Homo sapiens: one gene and its partners. The protein of the gene in region 2 interacts with the protein of the main gene of each other region in a pairwise test. Each region holds a gene or a part of one and is shown on either strand. Other genes may lie near its edges.

Region 1 (5,672 bases), on a different chromosome or scaffold from region 2:
CGAAACAGAATGAGGACTTTCATGGGGGCATAGTTTTCTCCCCTCCAGGTGGTTAACAACAGAAGAGGGAAAGGTACTCATGCCCGAAGCCAGCCAGTGGAAAATACTTAAGACCCTCCACCAAACTTTTCATATGGGTATTGAGAACACTCATCAAATGGCCAAATCCCTATTTACAGGGCCAAATCTCCTTCAGACCATCCAACAAGTAGTCAAAGCCTGTGAGGTGTGCCAAAGGAATAATCCCTTGGTCCATCATAAGGCCCCTCTGGGGGAACAAAGAATAGGGCACTATCTAGGAGAAGACTGGCAGTTAGACTTCGCCCATATGCCTAAGTCAAGGGGATTTCAATACTTGTTGGTCTGTGTTGATACCTTTGCAAATTGGATGAAGCCTTGTCCTGCAAGACAGAGAAGGCTCAAGAAGTGGTTAAAGTCCTAATTCATGAAGTAATTCCTAGATTTGGGCTTCCCCAAAGCTTACAAAGTGACAATGGTCTGGCTTTTAAAGCCATGGTAACTCAGGGAGTTTCCAGGGCACTAGAGATACAATATCACCTTCACTGTGCCTGGAGGCCACAATCCTCAGGAAAAGCCCATACAAGACCTTGTGACCACGAATACCGAATACCATCTTAACTTTCCAAGCCCTTTTATGCATCCAACACAACCTGTTATCAGGCCTGCCCCTGGGGCACCTACTATCCCATCAGTGTAATTACACCCTATAACTTCAAGCCCCAACTGATCATAGTAACTCCTGAGTCACCCAAACACCTCCATTCAGATGGCTTGTCTGCTTCTCAGGGCCCCCCAAAATCATCACCTCCTCCCTGTTTAACAAACAGTCTGGGTTTTGTAATGGCAAACATACTCCCTGCATGACCATTCACCCCTGGACCCCCTGCAGCAGCGCCCCCACCACTAGTGTATGTCTTCTTATCCCCTCTTTCAATTACTCTCTTGGATGGTTCCTAGTAGATACAAAACGGTTTTTTCTCCAATGGGAAAATAGAGCACAGGGAGCCACTCAGTCTGCTCCCAACACCCTTTCCAGCTGCTCACCAGAGCTACCTTGGCAAGTACTCTAGGAGTGTGGGAAAATGAAAACAAACTCACACACCTTTTTAACATACACAACCAGTTTATTCTACCCAGCCAAGGCATATTCTTCTTATGTGGAACTTCAACCTATATCTGCCTCCCACCAGCTGGACAGGCACCTGCACCTTCTCCTAAGTCCCAACACTAACAATGCCACAGGAAATCAGACCCTATCAGTGCCCCTCAAAGCTCAAGTCTGTCAGCCCAGGACCATACAACTAATACCCCTACTTATAGGGCTAGGAATGCCCACTGCTACAGGAACCAGAATAGCCAGTTTAACTACTTCATTATCCTACTACCATACACTCTCAAAGGATTTCTCAGACAGTTTGCAATAAATAAATCTATCCTTACTCTACAATCCCAAATAGACTATTTGGCAACAGTGACTCTCCAAAACCGCTAAGGTCTAGACCTCCTCACTGCTGAGAAAGGAGGACTTTGCACCTTCTTAGGGGAGGAGTGTTGTTTTTAAACTAACCAGTCAGGGATAGTACAGGATGCTGCCTGGCATTTACAGGAAAAGGCTTCTGAAACCAGACAACACCTTTCAAATTCTTATACCAACCTCTGGAGTTGGGTGACTTGGCTTCTCCCCTTTCTAGGTCCCGTGACAGCCATCTTGCTATTACTCACCTTCAGTCCCTGTATTTTTAACCTCCTCCTCAAATTTGTTTCCTCCAGGATCAAGGCCATCAAGCTACAGATGGTCTTACAAATGGAACCCCAAATGAGCTTAACTCACAACTTCTACCGAGGACTGCTAGACTGACCCACTGGCCCTTTGACTGGCCTAGAGAGTTCCCCTCTGGAGGACACTACAACGGCAGGGCCCCTTCTTTGCCCCTATCCAGCAGGAAGTAGCTAGAGTGGTCATCACCCAGTTCCCAGTAGCAGGTGGGGTGTCCTGTTATGAGGGAGGATTGAGAGGTGAGGCCAGCTGGACTTCCTAGGTCGAGTGGGGACTTGGGGAACTTTCCTGTCTTACAAGAGAATTGTAAAATGCACCAATCAGCGCTCTGTAAAACGCACAATCAGCAGCATTCTAAAAGTAGCCAATCACGGGGAGGATTGAAAAAAGGGCACTCTGATAGGACAGAAATGGAACATGGGAGAGGACAATAAGGGAATAAAAGCTGGCCACCCCAGCCAGTAGCGGCAACCTGCTGGGGTCCCCTTCCATGCTGTGGAAGCTTTGTGCTTTCGCTGTTCACGATAAACCTTGCTATCACTCACTCTTTGGGTCTGCGCCATCTTTACGAGTGTAACACTCACTGCGAAGGTCCACAGCTCCATTCTTGAAGTCAGCAAGACCACGAACCCACCGACAGGAACCAACTCTGGACACAACTATAGCCTCCAACTCCTGGGCTCAGGCAATCCTTCTGCCTTAGCCTCCCAAGTAGCTGGGGCTACATGCATGCACTAATGTCTAGCTAATTTTATTTTTATTTTTGGAGAGACAGGGTCTTGCTCTTTCACCCAGGCTGGTCTTGAACTCTCAGCCTCAAGTGATCCTCCCACCTTAGCTTCCCAAAGCACAGAGATTACATGCCTTTCCCTCAAGCTACTTGCCATCTCATCTTCCTTACTATATTAAAAGCAAAGGCTCCGGACATGGACTACTGGGGTTGGATTTCTGGCTCTGCTCTTTAACAGCTATGTGATTTGGACAGCTGGTTTCTTTCTGTGCCTCAGTTTCCTCATATGTAAAAGGAGGATATGAACAATGGCTTCCATGCCTGGCCTTCTTTTTCACTTTATAAATAAGTATACTTCTCTCCTTTCTGAATGTGGGAATAATACATTGTTTATAAATTTAGAAGTTGGAAACTACAAAAAAAAAAAACACAAAAAAAAGAGAGAGAGAAAGAAAATCATTACATTATTCCTAATCTCATTTGATGTACTTTGGCCTATTTCTTTCAGGCACTTTTCTGCATGTACCTTTTTTCCATAGCTGAAACCATATTGTATAAATAGCTTCAGATTCTGGTGGGGTGGTTTTTTCATGTAGTAGAACAGGTGTTTTCCCAAGTCCCTGAGCTCTCACTCTGCACACCCCATCTACCATTTCCCAGTGATGTGGCTTTGGGCGGTTGCTGCAGTTTGCTATTACACAAGTAAGCATGCAACCCACACCTGGGGAGAGAACTTTCTTCTCTCCTGAATCTCGGCTCGCATCTTTAAGCGCCACCCCATTAGACAGGAGGCAGCAGAAGCACAAAGCTCCATGAGTAACTCCTCTCCCTTTTGGAAAAGTTCACAGAAAGCAATTTTGGAGACCTTGGCAACGTTTAATTATGAACATTTAGAAAGACAACGGATCTCCTCATATGCACTGGGACTTCAGGGCCAGGTCTTCAGTTTCATGATTCGCATGATTCGCAGGGCTCCGGCACAGGAGCAATCTGAAAGCTGGGCTGCAAGCCCAGCGCGGTCTGCCTCCTGAGGCCCCGACCCACTGCGGCGGCGGCGCTGGGCCCCCTTACCTGGGCAGCGCCAGGGCCTCCTCCGTGCGGCCGAGGACGCCGAACACCGCTGGCAGCGCCAGCACCCCGTCAAGGTCGAAGACGGCCGCGCGCAGCGTCATGGCGGCGGGTCTGCAGCCTAGCACCCGGACACGCAGCTAACCTGGGAGATGCGCGAAGGCCAGGGCGCATGACCCGCCCAGCTTGGCCCGGCTCTGCCCCGCCCCTGCCCTGGCCCCGCCTCCTCCCCACACCCCCTTAACGGGACTCCGCCCTCTGCCCGGGTTAAGGCTGGACTCTGGCCGGGAAAGAGGCAGGGGGAGGGGCACAGGAAAGGGAGTCAGAGGGAGAGGAAGAGGAGGCCGGGAAGGCGGGGACCCCAGGCTAGAATCTCGCCTCTGGATGTAACGCTTTCTACTGTCTCAAAGGAAAGTCCAAAGTCTCTTATGCCCCCTCCCCACGCCCCTGCAGTAGCTGCTTGAAGAGGCAAACCCAGGCCCGGGCCTTCCTGGACGGACTGACAGCTCCCTGCGAACTTGCTGGACTTGGAATGCCTGGGAAAGAGGCCACAGACTCTGTGTGTGTGTGTGTGTGTGTGTGTGTGTGTGTGTGTGTGTGTGTGTGTGTGTGTCAGCACATCCAGTGACTTCTACATTCAGAACATAAGACCGTGTTGGGGGGCGGGGGAGGGGCATATCCAGTGACTTTTCTAGATTCAGAACGAAGGATCACAGATCCCTCACTATCCTGACCACTCCTCTAGGCACGCTCTTCTTTGCCAAGGCAAATGTGTTTCTAGAATAAAATATGATGTTCCAGCTATCGTGTGCCAGCCCAGAATACTTCGATTTCAATCTCTTGTGGAATGAAGCTTAGAAGAACTAAATGTAGGCTATTATTTTCCTTTTGTACATGCTACTTGTAATAATTCTGTCTTAAAATGTGCGAGGTTTGTTTTTAATCACCGATTTCCACACTATTGGCTCGTTTATGTTCCTAGAAAAACTAAAACTTTGGCTGGGAGTTCTTGAGCTGTTGTAGTGCAGCTCCATGAATTAAAAACCGTGTCTTTGGTGGAGACCAAACAGAGTGAGTGAGGTCTCCAACAGTGGAGAATTTACTCTTGAATGTGTCTCTGTGGATTTATCCAAGATACCCTCCACCACGGAGCTTCAAGAACCTTGTGAGGGGTTGTCAGATACCTCACTGTAACTGGGAGGTCTACAACAGTCTCTGGATCTAGCAATCAACAACAGGATTGACCAGAGCCGTGGGTTTCCTCTGGGCTGTTTGCCCTTAGCAAGCTATGCTGTTGCTTCCTTCTCTAGCTTGGTAACCTCTTCCAGGCTCCTGCCTGGAGCAGTTATTAGTGTTTTCTGAGATTCTTGCCAAAGAAGCAGAGAGTGGCCAACACTGCCAAATGTTACAGGAAGAACTGAAAAAAAAGCTGTCCAATTTTGGACTTGGATGACACCGGATGTTTCAGAACACTTTTTGTGGGCCCTTTATGGTAGAAACTGGATTACTCTGGATTTGAAGACTGAAAGATAGGCAGAGAAGGGAGTACAGCAAGCTAGTTTCTCATGAAGTTAGTTGATCTCAAAGGTATAATTGAATTTTAAAAAATAGAAAGAAAATTGCAGCCTGACCTATATAGTATGAAACCTGTTAAATCTCCAGATTGGGCATGGTGGCACACACCTGTAATCCCAGCACTTTGGGGCTGAGGTGGGAGAATTGCTTGAGGCCAGGAGTTTGAGACAAGCCTGGGCAACAAAGCAAGACATTCTCTCTATAAAAAATAAAAATAAAATATTAGCTAGGCATGGTGGTGCATGCCAGTAGTCTCTGCTATTCAGGAGGCTGAGGTGGGACGATCACTTTAGCCCAGGAAGTGGAGGCTGCAGTGAGCCATGATTGTGCCACTGCACTCCATCCAGCCTGGGTGACACAGCAAGACTCTACCTCCAAAAAAAAAAAAGAAAGAAATTAAATCTCCAACTTAGAGTTTCCTTTGGGCTCCAGACTTGCCAACTTCTTACTCAACATCTTACTCAACGTCAATATCCAACTTCTTACTGAACATCTTCTCTT
Region 2 (4,948 bases):
CCTCAACAGCTTTCAAAAGATACCAGGAAAGCGCCTCTCTGGGGCTACAGGAGGCTTTCCTCAACCTTCCCCTGCTTCCCCTGCAGTGGGGACCCCTCCTGCCCACCCACCATCATCGCCCCTTGGTGACCCCACCTGTCACCCTCTCCTTGCCGTCCCGGTCCCAGCACTCCTTGCGGGCCCTGAGCCGCAGAGCCTGGTTCTGCCTGATGATGGTGGCCTGAATGATCTCCACGACCTCCACTTCCTTCCGGGGGATGTACGTGCCTGGGGAGGGAAGGTGATGGTCAGAAGGTATCAGGGCTATGACAGGAAGGCAGGGAGCCCTATGGAGACAGAACTTACCAGGTCCCTCGAAAAGCCACTCATCTCCTGCCACCACCTTGTCTCCATCTTTATCCTCAAAATCAAGCAGCGCCTTTAGATGGAGGGCAGTGTTGGGCAGAACCACCTGCAGGGGTGTGATGTCCTAGTGGGGAAGAAGGTGGAGACACAGAACCATCAGTGCTGTGACCCCAGGGCCAAGCCTGATGCTCTGGAGGCGGGTCCACAACATCCATCTCTGTATGTCCTGAAATAAGACTGGGGTGGAGGCCGGGCACAGTGGCTCACACCTGTCATCCCAGAACTTTGGGAGACTGAGGTAGGAGGATTGCTTGACCTCAGACATTCAAGAACCAGCCTGGGCAACATAGCAAGATCCCATCTCTAAAAAAAAAAAAAAAAAAAAAAAGTGTAGCCAGGCATGGTGGCGGCGCACACCTGTAGTCCCAGCTACTCGGGAGGCTGAGGTGGGAGGATCACTTGAGCCCAGGAGGTTAAGGCTTCAGTGAGCTATGACTGCACCACTGCACTTCAGCCTGGGCAGCAGAGCAAGACCCTGTCTCAGGAGTTCAGATGAAGGAGAAGTTAGAGAAGGCCCTTTGAACTGAAACTGGGGCTCAAAGGAAGAGCTGGCTTTTTTTTATTTTTGGAGATGGGGTCTTCCTATGTCATCCAGGCTGGACTGCAGTGGTACAACCATGGCTCACAACAGTCTCAATCTCCCAGGCTCATGTGATCCTTCTGTCTCAGCCTCCTGAGTGGCTGGGATTACAGGTGTGTCACCACCCCCAGCTAATTTTTTTTTTTTTTTTTGAGACAGAGTCTTGCTCTGTCACCCAGGCTGGAGCGCAGTGGCGCAATCTCAGCTCACTGCAATCTCCGCCTCCCAGGTTCAAGTAATTCTCATGCCTCAGCCTCCCAAGTAGCTGGGATTACAGGCGCATGCCACCACGCCTGGCTAATTGTTGTATGTTTAGTAGAGATGGGTTTTCGCCATGTTGGCCAGCCTGGTCTCAAACTCCTGACCTCAAGTGATCTGCCTACCTTGGCCTCCCAAAGTGCTGGGATTACAGGCGTGAGCCACTGTGCCCGGCTGAACATATTTAAAATGAAAGCTTAGGCAGGGCTTGGTGGCTCACACCTGCAATCCCAGCATTTTGGGAGAATGAGGTGGAAGGATCGTTTGAGCCCAGGAGGTTGAGGCTGCAGTGAGCTATGATCACCCCACTGCACTCTCGTCTAGGCAACAGGGGGAGATCCAGAAAAAAAAAAAAAAAAAAAGGCCAGGCGCGGTGGCTCACGCCTGTAATCCCAGCACTTTGGGAGGCCAAGGCAGGTGGATCATGACGTCAGGAGATCGAGACCACCCTGGCTAACACGGTGAAACCCCATCTCTACTAAAAACACAAAAAGTTAGCCGGGTGTGGTGGTGGGCGCCTGTAGTCCCAGCTACTCGGGAGGCTGAGGCAGGAGAATTGCGTGAACCTGGGAGGCAGAGCTTCCAGTTAGCCGAGATTATGCCACTGTACTCCAGCCTGGGCAACAGAGTGAGACTCCATCTCAAAAAAAAAAAAAAAAAAAAAAAGGTACAAGAATCCCTATATACTTTTCACTTGGATTCCTTAAGGGTTATTGTCTTAATCATTCTTCATTTTCTCTCTACACACACACTTCTTCCCCCAAACTGTCTGCACCTAAGTGGACATGAATGTCTCTAAAAGTTCCCCATGTTCTGCTATTATGCTTTCAGGATCAAGCAGCACTGGTTAGTAAAGTCAGTAAGAAAACCATTAAATGGGGCTGGACACGGTGGCTCATGCCTGTAATCCCAGCACTTTGGGAGGCCGAGGCGGGCGGATCATGAGGTCAGGAGATCAAGACCATCCTGGCTAACACGGTGAAACCCCGTCTCTATTAAAAACAAACAAACAAACAAACAAAAAACCCAAAACCATTAAATGGCCAGAAGGTAAAGGTGGAAGAACAGGTAAAGGAATGAAGGTGGGACACCCACCTGCTCAGGCCCAGGCCTGAGGCCAACGGGGACAAGAGCCTGGCTGTAGGTTCAGGCCTGTGATGGCTTCTCCTAGAACAGGCACAGCCTGGGGCCTGGGCTTGTCACTGCTGCTTTGGCACTGCCCACCAGTGTCTGGCACCGGGTGAATGAACTGCTTAACCTTGGCACATGTCATTTAATGCCAGACTGGCTGGGCACTTCTGGTAGGCTCTGGAGCCTGGGAAGGTGAGATGGGCCAACAGTTCTCAGAAAAGAGGCAGGTGTGTTTGGGGCATGTGTGGAGGATGGGGGTGGCTGGAGGTGAGTGGAGGTACAGTGAGTCAATTCCACCCTTGGTGAGAGCCAGCAAGTGTCTCTCCCCACCCCTCCCACTGCCCTGGTTTGTTTTCCCTTTAGAACTCGGTACAGGCCGGGAACAGTGGCTCATGCCTGTAATCCCAGCACTTTGGGAGGCCGAGGCAGGTGGATCACCTGGGGTCGGGAGTTTGAGATCAGACTGGCCAACATGGTGAAACCCTGTCTCTACTAAAAATACAAAAATTAGCCGGGCGTGGTGGCGGGTGCCTGTAATCCCAGCTACTGAGGAAGCTGAGGCAGGAAAATCACTTGAACCCAGGTGGAGCTTCCAGTGAGCCGAGATTATGCCACTGCACTCCAGCCTGGGCGACAAGAGTGAAACTCTGCCTCAAAAAAGAAAAGAAAAAAAGAAGAAGAAGGCAGCAGTATAGAGCCCAAGGCAGGTGGAGGACAGGTAGGGTGGGGCATAGGGAGTGAGGAAACCAGGTACCTTTTCCAGCACCTCCCCTGGGTACAGGGGGAAGGGGTCCTGGGCCAGCCGGATCTCGAGGTCAGCGTGGCGAAGCCGAACTTGCCCTGTGACATCAAACAGCACCAAGCCCTGGGCATCCCGAGACACAGGGTTGGCCACTGTGCAGTAGTGACGTGGGGGGACGGTCACCATGCGCATGGGGGCAAACAGTACCCTGCAGGAAGATGAGAAGAGGTGTGAGGACCTGGGACCAGGTCTCCACTACCAAAGAGGACACCAAATGAGAGAGAAACCTCTCTATCGCCCAAGCGAGGGCCACTCCTGCTTGGGAAGAGGGAGGAGGATAAGGACCATCATGCCAGCCAAACAGGCCCCCACATCCCCAAGGATCCCCCACAGCCCAGCCCCCACACCCACCTCTCATTGTCCTGCCGGATGTAGGTCTTTGGCCCGACCTCCACACGGGACACGTTGCTGTTCTGGTCCAGCACATGGATATAGTGGTATGGGGGGATGCGGATGATGAACTCTTCAGTTGCCATGGTGACTCCTAAGCCCAGGGCTCACAAGAAGATGACTGGTAGGTGGGGGAGACGACACAGGATGAACCTGGGGAGCCTGGGGTGGGGCAGGCATGAATCTGGTGACAGACTCTGGGTGGGATACGGCCCTACCTCCTCCAGCCAGGCCACTGCACCCTTCCCTGTCCGCATCTGCATGCCCACTGCTCCCTGTCTTCACCCCACCCAAGACGACACAGCCCATCCTGACCTTACCTTTGCCAAGAACTGCTTGATGCAGTGAGCCACAGAGGCCCAGGGTTCCTTGCCAATTCCTTTCCCTCACTCCCATCAACTACTTCCCCCTACACTGCCACCGGCACTGCAAAGAGCTTCAGATCAAGGTGCTCCCAGTCTCTTACGGTGGAGAGATACAGCAAGCTGGGAAACTGGGGAGCCATGGAGGTGGTGACATGGCCTTGTCCAGCACGCAATGGGCAGCTGCTCTGAGGAGCTGCCTGGCTCCTCCAGAGGGAGGCAGCCCTTTATTTCAGAGAATCCTGAGGCCCCAGCTGTATTCAAATGTCAGCCCATAGCCAAAGAATATCTGTATGCCTCAGGTAGTCCAGTGGCTAGGATTCGGCCATAAACAAAAGGAATGTTTACATGAGCTGTGTCTATGTTCCCTGCCTCTTTCCTATGCTTTAGTAATCCTGGGCTGAATGTGAAGACCTAGTCCACTGCTCATAAAGGGATCCCAGATGGAACTGAGCCTTCCATAGAACCAGCTGCATTACTAACACTGCAAATCACTCTGGCCCCCTCGTCCCCAGTTCTCTCCCATCCTCAGCTCCTGCAGTTGTGAGCAAGGGTAGGGTGGAAAGGAAGGAGAAGGGGGATGATTATCATGTTCCACCCACCCATCCCACCTGCTTCTGAATCCTGAGTAGTTTCACCCAGTGCTTGGCCTGTTCAGGAATGTCACATGCCCTACCTAAGCCCCACCCCTGCCCCCAGCACTTTGGACTTTGGACATGTCCCTTTGAGTCACACAAATGGGACCAAGTTTACTAGGTGCTCCAGAGCCTCATCCTTAAGAGACTCAGGTCAGACTTTTTTTTTTTTTTTTTTTTTTTTGAGACGGAGTCTTACTCTGTCACCCAGGCTGGAGTGCAGTGGTGCAATCATAGCTCACAAAAGCCATGCCTCAGCCTCCTGGGTAGCTGAGACTACAGGTACATGCCACCATGTCTAGCTAATTTTTTTTTTTGGAGAGATGAGGTCTCATTATGTTGCCTAGGCTGGTCTCGAATTCCTGGCCTCAAGCAATCCTCTTGC
Region 3 (4,948 bases), on a different chromosome or scaffold from region 2:
CCTGTCTCTACTAAAAATACAAAATTAACCGGGTGGGGTGGTGCATGCCTGTAATCCCAGCTACTTCTGAGGCTGAGGTAGGAGAATCACTTGAACCCGGGAGGCGGAGGTTGCGGTGAGCCGAGATCACGTCGAGCCGAGATCGCGTCATTGCACTCCAGCCCGGGCAACAAGAGTGAAACTCCATCTCAAAAAAAACAAAAAAACAAAACAAAACAAAACCTATTTGCTAAGCACAGAGGAAGAAAAAGATAGTCATTACTGTAAAACTGCAGAGCCCCAAAGCATATGAAACACTGCATCTCACTAATGATGGCGTTTTGGGAGAACTTCCTCAGACCTTTTACAGAGTATCTGGAAACATCAACTAATTGATGGGGAGCACAGCATTACCACAAAAACACTTGTAGAGCCTGTTTATTGCATAACTAGCAGGCACAAATTCCAAAACGATTTTACAACACTTAAAGGGCACAATAATTACAGGAATAGAATGTACAATAAAAAGTACAGAATAATGAGTGACAGGGATCAAACACGTTGGAATAAAAGGCATCTCAGTTTTCCTATGCAGCATTTTCTTTTCTAGGAACACGTTACCTTCAACCAGGACAAGGAAAGAAAGAAAACTATACTATTGGAAAGCTCATGGGTGCCATTGAGGACAAAAACAGGCGAGTTTTGCTCTTGGTTCTGCAACTGAATCACTTGAGAAGCCGTGCACAGCTCCCGAGTTGTGCGTTTAGAATTCTGATTACATGAAATGCTGTGTTTGATCTTTGGGCCCAATTCACTGTTCTTTGGCAAATAAGAACTATTTGCATTCCAAGGCAGATGACGATTTCTGTGAAAGGAGCTTAGAGGTACAGCTGTTTCCTTCTGTTCAGTCAAGTGCCAGTTTCATAAAGTGCACCTCTGCCCTATCAGCTTTGGGGGAAGGGTGGCATATGGGGAGGAAGGGATCATTGAGAATACAGGGTGAAAAAGAACGACGTTACTGAAGGTAGACATTGCTAGTGCAAGGTACGGAATCCATGTGCAAAAGGTGGCTGGAACAAATGTTCAGATAAGGTGCGATTTGCCAACAGGAGCAGAGAACTCTGACACCAGATCTCAGATGAGGCCAAGGAAATGCGCGGGGCACATACAGAGAGGACGACCTGCAGCCCTCCAATGGCCACGTCATTCCACCGGGGAACTTGTTTGGAGTTTTGGCACCGTGGGCTAACCGAGCACTCTTCTGACATATTCTTACAACTGGAAATGCTTTGTTGGTCCCCATGTTCCTTGACTTTCTCTAGGGCCATAAAGGCAACATCTTCTATTGCAGGTCCTCAAACATTCCAAGGAAAACACTGCTTCACCTCCTGCAGACAGCTCATTTCCCAGAAGCCTCTACAGAAGCCCGTCCTCCCTGGGACAGCAGGGGCAGGGGTTTGCAAGATAAAGGAGGGTCAGCTAAGGACATGAAGCCTGCAGAAAAGGCTATCAGATGGCGCCTGAACTTAAGGTGGGAGGCCCCCTTCTAGAAGGCATCCCGGGAGCATCCAACAGCAATGTGGCACTTAGGGCTGTGGGACAAACAAGTGGAAGAGTCTTTTGGAGACGTGGACCCTTTTCCCATGCTACTCACAGTGAAGCAAAATGCGACAAAAGCATCCACACACGGTGACTTAGTAAAGCAAGCACCGTCGGGGTGCTACTTTCATGACAGCATATGGTCAAGCTATAAAGGTGTGCATCGATCAGTCCTGTGAAAATAGAAGCTTAGTTATTAGCATGTATTGAGGCAACTTGTACTTTGATTCTTGTGTCTTCTTCACATGTGTGAATGACTGCTATGGGACAGAACATATGGTTAAAAACAGGAGCGACAGCAACATAACACACAGGGTTGGCCGGCTCCATTACGGGTAAGACTCAGAGGCTGCTCCAGGTGTGTCCGGGGAAGCCAGGCCCTCACACTGCACAGCTTACAGGGCCCTGGGGTGGGGGCTGTGAGCTGGCAGCCTAGAGGACACAGCTCACCTGCACATGGTCTCTGAAAGTGTTCAAATTGGTTGCCAACATTTATAAATGGAGAGATGGCACCAAAAAACATCTAGGTTTCTTGTCTCTTGAAAAATCAAAGCTGTGGCCACCCTAGGCCCACTTTTCCACATGGCAACAGGCGTGGAGCTGGGGGCTACTGCCCCTACTGTGTAGGCGGTGGGCTCCCCATAGTCTCCTCTGCCCTGCTGCCGTGTACCTGGCTCCCTTCACTCATCCACATCACCGGCCCTAGGCCAGGGTCTGAACCACACACACAGAATGGCTGCAGTAAGCAGGAACGGGAAGAGCTTTCACATTCAGAACAAGAAGGGGCTTTTGAGTAACTAAAAAACAATCTGAGCATGTTCCAGCACTTCAACCTTACTCTTTCAGAGCTTTGGGGTAGCAGGCAGCCAGCTAGAGCACACTCTCTAAGGAACTCTTGAAAGTTGATGTCTAATTTTTAAGTACTCATGAGGTGATGGAGGAGAAACTAACTCAGATGACTGCGATACGATACATCTTTCCTTATAAGAAGTCCTTAAAGATGATGAAAAATGTGAAGCAACTCATGTGAGAAAGCTGTAAGTGGTCAGAGAAGCAAGCTGACTTTTGGATGAAGGGTACAACACAGTGTCAGGGAGTAGGTGATTTCTTTTCCCTATAGTTCATGGTAGTGATACCTAAATGGGTGGCACAAAATGAGTTCTGGCTTGTTAGACTGATGCTTCTCTTTGCTGCAGGTTTTGAACAAACTGTCTGGCTTACAGGGGTGAGGGAGAGCACCTGACAATGGGTGGTGATGTGCGTGGAGCTCCTACCCTGAACATGGCTTCATGAGATGTCCTGTGGTGGGTCAATGCTTTATCTCATTCCATGGAGCCTTCAAGATGACAAGAAAACATCAAGAGATAGGAGCTTGAGATAACAACATTAAATAACAGAACATGTAACAGGGTAAAACACTGAGAAGAAATGAACCAATTCATTGTTTCCTCCCAAGAGAGACTGTGACACTAGTTTTAAAAAGCGGCAAAGTCCTTTCTCTACATACATGCTTGGAGATACCCCAAACTTAGAGATTATGAAGTAGGCCAGGAAATTCACTTATTGCACGATGCTTGGCAGGGAACAAATGACGCTGATTTTTTCTTTTTTAACTGAACTCTCTCAAGAAAATGTTTTATGAAAAATTTCATTTATAGTTTCAGCCATAGGCAGGGAGTTTTAAGGGATGGAAAAGTTTTCACAAACTTTAGACAATGAAACTATACTTTTGGATGTATGTGATCAACTCAACAGTTGTTGACAACACAACCGAACATCAGAAACTAAACCAGCAAATAGGCACAAAATAAGGCAAGTGGGTTAAATAGTTGAAAATTGGTTAGAAAACATGCAAAAATAATACTGAGTTTTCTTTTAAAAAGTTTTAAACCGTCATTAAATGTTTCTTTTTGTAGAAATCTGAAGAGTTCTGCGTCTGAATTTGAAATTGGACTTTATAAAGCCTAGAAAACAGAGGAGGCGGTGCCCTGCCCTTGTCAGTTGTTGTTCTCTTTGGTGGTGATGGTAACCAGCTGCTTGGCAGCCTTGGCGATGTCGTACGCACACTGGATGACCTGCTGCGTGACCAGCTGAACGTCTGTGGGTGAGCCGGGGTCCCCTGGGAGGGTCTTCTTGCACTCTGACTGCAGTCGGTAGGCACTGGACGTCAGTAAACGAAGGGAAGTCCTCACCATATCAGACTTGGGTTTCTAAAAGGAAAAAGACAGCCGTTTACCCTGAACTGCAGGGCAGACATCCAAAAGCAGGGGACAAACATTCTTCTAAAGCAAACCAAGCTGCTCCCCAGAGTGAAAGGCGGTTTGGTCCTGCCCTTTCTCAAAGGGGTGCTTCACACACTCCAAGCTTTGCAGCCCACAGCGTAAGAGATGCTGAAATATTCTGATTCAAAGGTCAAAGTGCATGCAGGGTAATTTTAGTAGTATGTGGTATTTTGAAGTAGTTTTTGAAAAATATTAATCCATGTGGGTAAAATATTCCAGAAAATCCTATAAATTTTAAAATGTGCCTTTTAGCACGACTTGTATATCCTTGTCTTATTAAATCAACATTCATGCAGAACAAAAATATTTCAAAGCTCTATACGACTGCATATTTTATTTTATTTTACTTTTTTTTGAGACTTGAGTTTCACTCTTGTTGCCCAGGCTGGAGCGCAATGGCACGATCTTGACTCACTGCAACCTCCGCCTCCTGGGTTCAAGCGATTCTCCTGCTTCAGCCTCCTGAGTAGCTGGGATTACAGGCATGCACCACCACGCCTGACTAATTTTGTATTTTTAGTAGAGACAGGGTCTCTCCATGTTGGTCAGGCTGGCCTCGAACTCCCGACCTCAGGTGATCTGCCTGTCTCGGCCTCCCAAAGTGCTGGGGTTACAGGCGTGAGCCACCACACCCGGCCTCGACTGCATATTTTAAAACTGCATGTGCTACAAAAAAGCTAATGTAATATATAGGTCATAAAGAAATTTCTTGCTGTTCATTTAAAAGGATTTAAACCAAGTGAGTAGGAAGTGACTTACTTTGGGGAATAATGCTGCCATTTCTGTAACAGCTACGTGTATCCTCTCTGAGCAGGGAATATAACTGCAAGAATATTGAAGAAGTTATTCAATGACAGTAAAAATGATTCGGAGGCAAAGAGGACTCAAGTGCTAGAACAGATTCTGTTTACATTCCCTTCATGAAGGGGCTAGGGCTGCAGTCAGCCGTGCATCCCACACCACCAGAGGGCACATGGTTATAAAGCAGGACTCTCATTGCTTCCTAAAAGTTCAATCTGATGAAAAGTCTCCAGGTATGAAATATGGCAACATACACTCTTGGTCAGGTGAGGCCACACAACAGTACA
Region 4 (4,948 bases), on a different chromosome or scaffold from region 2:
GACCAGAAGAGCCTGGGTAACAGCCCTGTGAGTGTAGCTGAATTCCCCAGAGGCCAGGAACAGACTAAGGAGCCTGGCTCTGGGCTTCAGATGGAGGGTATCCCAGAAAGGGGATGTTTGCCTGCACAGGTGAAATGGAGGTGGTGTGGTGACCTCCTCTAGAGGCCAGTGGCTCACAGAGACCCAACACCTGGGCAGGTGGGGCACCAGAAGAAAACATCCTACTGGCTGTCACTGCCCTGGCCTGACCCACTGCCAAGCTCTGGATGACTGTGAATGCAAGTCCTTCTGAGGCCAACTGGAAGCAGAGGCAGGGGAGGAGGGCGTAGCACAGAGCTTCTGTTCCATGGGGTCCCAGTGGGAAGGAAAGATGGGAACAGAGGCAAGGAGGCTATTTCAAGAGTCACTGTCAGAGCCACCGGCTCAACACTGTCGTGGGAAGAGGTGGGGGTGGCAGGTTCTGAGCTGATCTGCCATCCATACAGAAGGAACTGAGGCAGTGGTGAAGGCAGGGGTGAGCTGCCGCCCAAGCCTGGGGAAGTATGCTGTGTGGGAAGACCCCAGATAAGGAAGAGGAACAAAGCGCAACAGCTCAGGCTGGGTTTGTCCTTGCAGTGGCTCTCCTAGGAGCTCTTGCCCTCCAGGGCCAGGGCCAGGACCTGAGGCTCTCTCCTCCCTCAGGACCTGGGAAGGATGCATCTGAGCTTCTTCCTTACTGGCGACTGTGGTGGTGGCTTGCTCCTCTGTCCCCTCATCTGTCCCAGCAGGGGCAAGTATGCAACACACAGAACAGGGCTTGCTGACCATGTGTACTTCATGCCAGACACACGGCTAGATTTCCCCCACAATCTCCTACTTCCGGCAACGGCATCTGATTTGGGACAGCAGCCCCATGGCAGCCAGTACTGACAACGGTGAGCAAGGGTGGAGGAACTGTAGCTTCCCCCAGATTAGTCCAACCCAAGGAAGCTGCTGGCCGTACTGTGGAAAACCCAGGGCTGGTACAGGCCAGGGTCACTACAGACTATTTCTCTCTCCACTCACAGTCACATCCTGGGAACAAAGATGGGGTCCCTGCCCTCCAGGAGTTTATGGTCCAGTTGCCTTGGAGCCCAGTGAATGCTCTGCTAGAGAGAAAACACAGAAGCTAAGGGCACACTGAGGAGAGACTCAGAGAAGTCTTCCTGGAGGACAGGACTTAAAGTGAACCTTGACGATAACTGAGGGGCCTGGAGGAAGGGTGGGATGGGGAGCTTAGATGTGTGGGGAAGACCCCAACCCCCATCAGCCCTTTTCTCAGGCCTCAGAACGGTCCGCTCCCCCTTCTCCCACTGCCCGCTTCCTTCCCACTCATCTGAGCCAAACTTCCTTCCCAGCTTTGCCTCTCCTGAGCCAAACCTCCACCTCAGCCAGGGTTCCATTTCCTCGTCCTCCTCCCTCCTCTTCCTCTGAAGGTGCCCATCCTCTCATCTCCTTGACTCTTTCCTCTCAGCCCAAAAACCTGCTCCATTGCATCCAGCCTGAAAATCCCTCCTTAAGCCAGCACCTGCCTCTGCTTTCCTTCTCCACAGAACTATTGAGCAAATGAGCTACATTTGCCATCACCACCTCCTTCTCTCCTACTCAACTGTACAATCTGGTTTTTGCTGGCAAATGCTCTGTGCTCCTTAAAGTCCCCAACAATCACCCCATTGCCAAATTCCTCAAACAAACAAGCTGTGTTCAGCCAGGCCTCCAAGCCACTGCCCATGCTGTTCCCTCTTGTACCTCTGTACCTTTTCCACTTGGCAAACTCTGACCCAGCCTCCAAGCTGCCCCCAGACGTGCTATAGTGTGGGTACTTCCCTGGCCACCAACACCTGTTCCCATCCCTGAGAGAAGTCCCTCTGCTGAGCTCCCACAGCACTGACACACACATATCCATTGTTACACTGTCCATTACAGCAGCTGCCAGCTGGTCTAGAATGAGTGTTATTGCTGACAACAGCAGCAACCATTGTGTGAGTCTCTCTAGGCGCCAAGGACCATCCATCATCGTGTGTGATCCTGCAAGCAGTCGCACAAGGCAGGTGACTCAGAGACAATGTCACAGGGCCATGGCCTTCCTACCAGGCAGCACTGGCATCTGACTGGGAACCAGACTCAGAAATCAGTTGTTTATACATTAGTCTTCTCACATCAGACCTACGTGAATTCTTTTAGCGCACAAGTCATATTTTATTCATCTTTGTGACATCAGGACTTCACATGGCCTGGCACACTGCTGAGTCTCAGCACACATTTATCAGACTGTGGCTGGCTGCAGCATCCAGAACTGGCTTGGCCCCTACACTGGCCTATAACTAGGGGCTGCTGAGGAATACACGGAGGAAACCACTGAGATGAGGCAGGATGAACGCCAGGGAAAATCTGTGAATTATAAGAGCTACTGTATCAACATGGGGAAAGGGCTCCTCCGGGCCCAGTGTGGGCCAGCCTCCAGTAGGGTGGCTACAATGCAGAGGAGGCCCTAGAAACTGCCAGTCACCTCTAATCAGGGCCCAAAGCCTAATTCAGCATGCGTTGGGGGTCTGCTGCAGTGTTTCCCCTCTGCCCAAAACTAAAACTCATGTTAGAGGAAACCCTGAGCCTCTTTCTCTGAAGGCACAGCTGCCTCAGGAGGGGCAGGCAGGTGCTGTCTTGTCAGGGATCGGATCTTGGGCCCACTGCAGCGAAGGAGACATGTCTGTACCAATTATCACCAAAATCTAAGAGTAGGATAATAAATATATTTGGTTTTTGTCCCCCAGTTCTCATCACAGAGCAGCTAAAACCCTTGGAATTTCCTTAAGGTCAGAAGTATCTTCAGTTATGTATAACAAGCCCCTTTCCACAACACCTGAGCTTATGCTAATGTGATAATCTGGGAGAGACTAAGGATTGGGCCAGTCACCAGAGACACCAAGTGATTAGAGGATTAGAGGACTGGAAATATCAGCGCCATCCACCAACCTCCAGGAAAGTGGGGGTGGGTATGTAGGACATAGAGTGGGGGCTCTGAGATCAAGCTCTATAAAAACTCTTGGATAACAGGATTTGATGAGTTTCTCTAGCTACTGGGAGGGTGAAGGCCAGGAGAGGGCAGGGAAGTTCCAATACCACCATTCCCCCTGGCACCCCACGACACTGTGCCATCCGTCCCTCCCTCTGACTGTTCCTCTGCATCCTTTACAATAAGCCAGGAAATGTTAAGTGAAGTGTTTCCCCAGGTTCTGTGAGCCATCCTAGCAAATTATCAAGCCCAAGGAGAGGGTATGGGAACCCCAATCTATAGCTAGTTGGTTAAAAGCAAATGTAAAATAACCTGGGGCTTGGGACCAGCATGGGAAGTGGGGCTAAGTCTTGTGGGACTGAGTCCTCAACCTGTGGGATCAGACGCTATCTGCAGGTAAATGGCATCTGAAAAGAAATGGAGGACACCCAGCTGGTGTCCACTGGAGAACTGCTTGGTATGTGGGGTAATACCATGCCAGAATACCAACACCAGAAGTATTCTGTATTGAGTGTAAATACAGAGAAAAACGGCTTTTTCCCTTTTACACTAAAGGAATCAAGTCCAAACTCCCAAGTGTGCCAAGAGGCCCTGCACGTCCTGAACTGTGCTTACTGCTCCCACCTCGTTTTTGTTTTTGAGACAGGGTCTCACTCTATCACCCAGGCTAGAGTGCAGTGGCACAATCATAGCTCACTACGGCCTTGAACTCTTGGACGCAAGCGATCTTCCCACCTCAGCCTCCTGAGCAGCTGGGATTACAGGTGTGTGTTACCACACCCAGCTAATTTTTTGATTTTTTTTGTAGAGATGAGTCTCCCTATGTTGCATGTTGCCCAGGCTGGTCTCAAACTCCTGGGCTCAAGTGATCCTCCCGCCTCAGACTACCAAATCACTGAGGACCTGGCCTCCCACCTCTCATCTTGACACCCTCCCTTCCAGTGCCTTCTCATCAGGTCCTAGGGTTGTTCTCCCTGCCTGGAGCACCGTCCTCTCCTCCCTCGTCCCACCCTCTCCCACACGCTTTCATGAATTCCTACTCATCCTTCAGCCCCAGGCTTGGCTGTCACCTCCTCTGACAGCTGCACCCTTCCTGATGCAACCAGGTTGGGTGACCCTCCTCTGTGTTTCCAAAGTACCCTGTGCTCCCTCCAGCACAGCTTCTCTATCCTGCCTATTCACCTGCCTGTTACCTGCTCCTAGGCGTGAGCTCCATAAGGACAAAGGAACTTGGTCTGCCCTGTGGGGCTGTGGCCTTAGCACCTAGCACACTGTTTGGGTCCATCAGTATTTGTTAAGTGAAATATCCGTGGAAAGGGCCAGTCTCCAAGAAGAGACTTCACTAATAAAGAGTATGACACAGATTTCTAATTCCTGGCATCTCCACATGTTCACACACACTGATCCTGACATCTATCTACTCTGTGAAAGAGGAAGCAACCCGAGTTTACAAAGATGGAAAGTGAACAGAGCAAGGCCTCTGTTATTATTTATTGTTGTATGTCCCTGTTTCTTAAAGCAACAGGCACTATCCCAAGTTCATACAACCTGTGCATGAGGCTCTCAAACTCTGTGCCTTGGTTCTCCCAAGGCTAAGCAGGAAGTCAAAGATTAAGAAGTCAAGAGCCTCAGCCCAATTCTGCTTCAGCCTGGCACTCCCTCCCCTCCTGCATCTCAGCTGCCTCTCACACAGGGTGGCTGGGTCCTCCTCACCAATGATGGCTTCCTTCAGGCTGGACTCAACAGGAAGGATGTTCTTCTCCACCAGCTCCATGGGGCCAGGCCTCTGTGCAATCTTCTCATTGAGGTCATCGGCTAGTCTGGCTCTCTTCAGCTTCAGCTGCTTGGCCTGGAGGGATGGCTCAGCCGAGGTCTCTGCCCATGGGAGAGAAAGGGGTGCAGGAAGATATATGAGTG

The links.
Region 1: the proteins of MVP (region 2) and EPHX2 interact in a two-hybrid assay, tested with the Homo sapiens proteins (one large-scale study listed by BioGRID and IntAct).
Region 3: the proteins of MVP (region 2) and GIT2 interact in a two-hybrid assay, tested with the Homo sapiens proteins (one large-scale study listed by BioGRID and IntAct).
Region 4: the proteins of MVP (region 2) and MRTFA interact in a two-hybrid assay, tested with the Homo sapiens proteins (one large-scale study listed by BioGRID).

Annotation. Positions count from the first base shown.
Region 1 is NC_000008.11:27,489,237-27,494,908, reverse strand, and holds the start of EPHX2 (bifunctional epoxide hydrolase 2), read right to left. Parts: upstream 3,767-5,672; 5' UTR 3,701-3,766; coding exon 3,600-3,700; intron 1-3,599. UniProt on the Homo sapiens protein: Bifunctional enzyme. The C-terminal domain has epoxide hydrolase activity and acts on epoxides (alkene oxides, oxiranes) and arene oxides. Plays a role in xenobiotic metabolism by degrading potentially toxic epoxides.
Region 2 is NC_000016.10:29,829,254-29,834,201, reverse strand, and holds part of MVP (major vault protein), read right to left. Parts: intron 3,729-4,948; exon of another isoform or gene 3,688-3,728; 5' UTR 3,653-3,687; coding exon 3,528-3,652; intron 3,325-3,527; coding exon 3,129-3,324; intron 470-3,128; coding exon 346-469; intron 268-345; coding exon 136-267; intron 1-135. UniProt on the Homo sapiens protein: Required for normal vault structure. Vaults are multi-subunit structures that may act as scaffolds for proteins involved in signal transduction. Vaults may also play a role in nucleo-cytoplasmic transport.
Region 3 is NC_000012.12:109,929,403-109,934,350, forward strand, and holds the end of GIT2 (ARF GTPase-activating protein GIT2), read right to left. Parts: intron 4,684-4,948; coding exon 4,620-4,683; intron 3,789-4,619; coding exon 3,576-3,788; 3' UTR 402-3,575; downstream 1-401. UniProt on the Homo sapiens protein: GTPase-activating protein for ADP ribosylation factor family members, including ARF1.
Region 4 is NC_000022.11:40,424,862-40,429,809, forward strand, and holds part of MRTFA (myocardin-related transcription factor A), read right to left. Parts: intron 4,907-4,948; coding exon 4,745-4,906; intron 1-4,744. UniProt on the Homo sapiens protein: Transcription coactivator that associates with the serum response factor (SRF) transcription factor to control expression of genes regulating the cytoskeleton during development, morphogenesis and cell migration.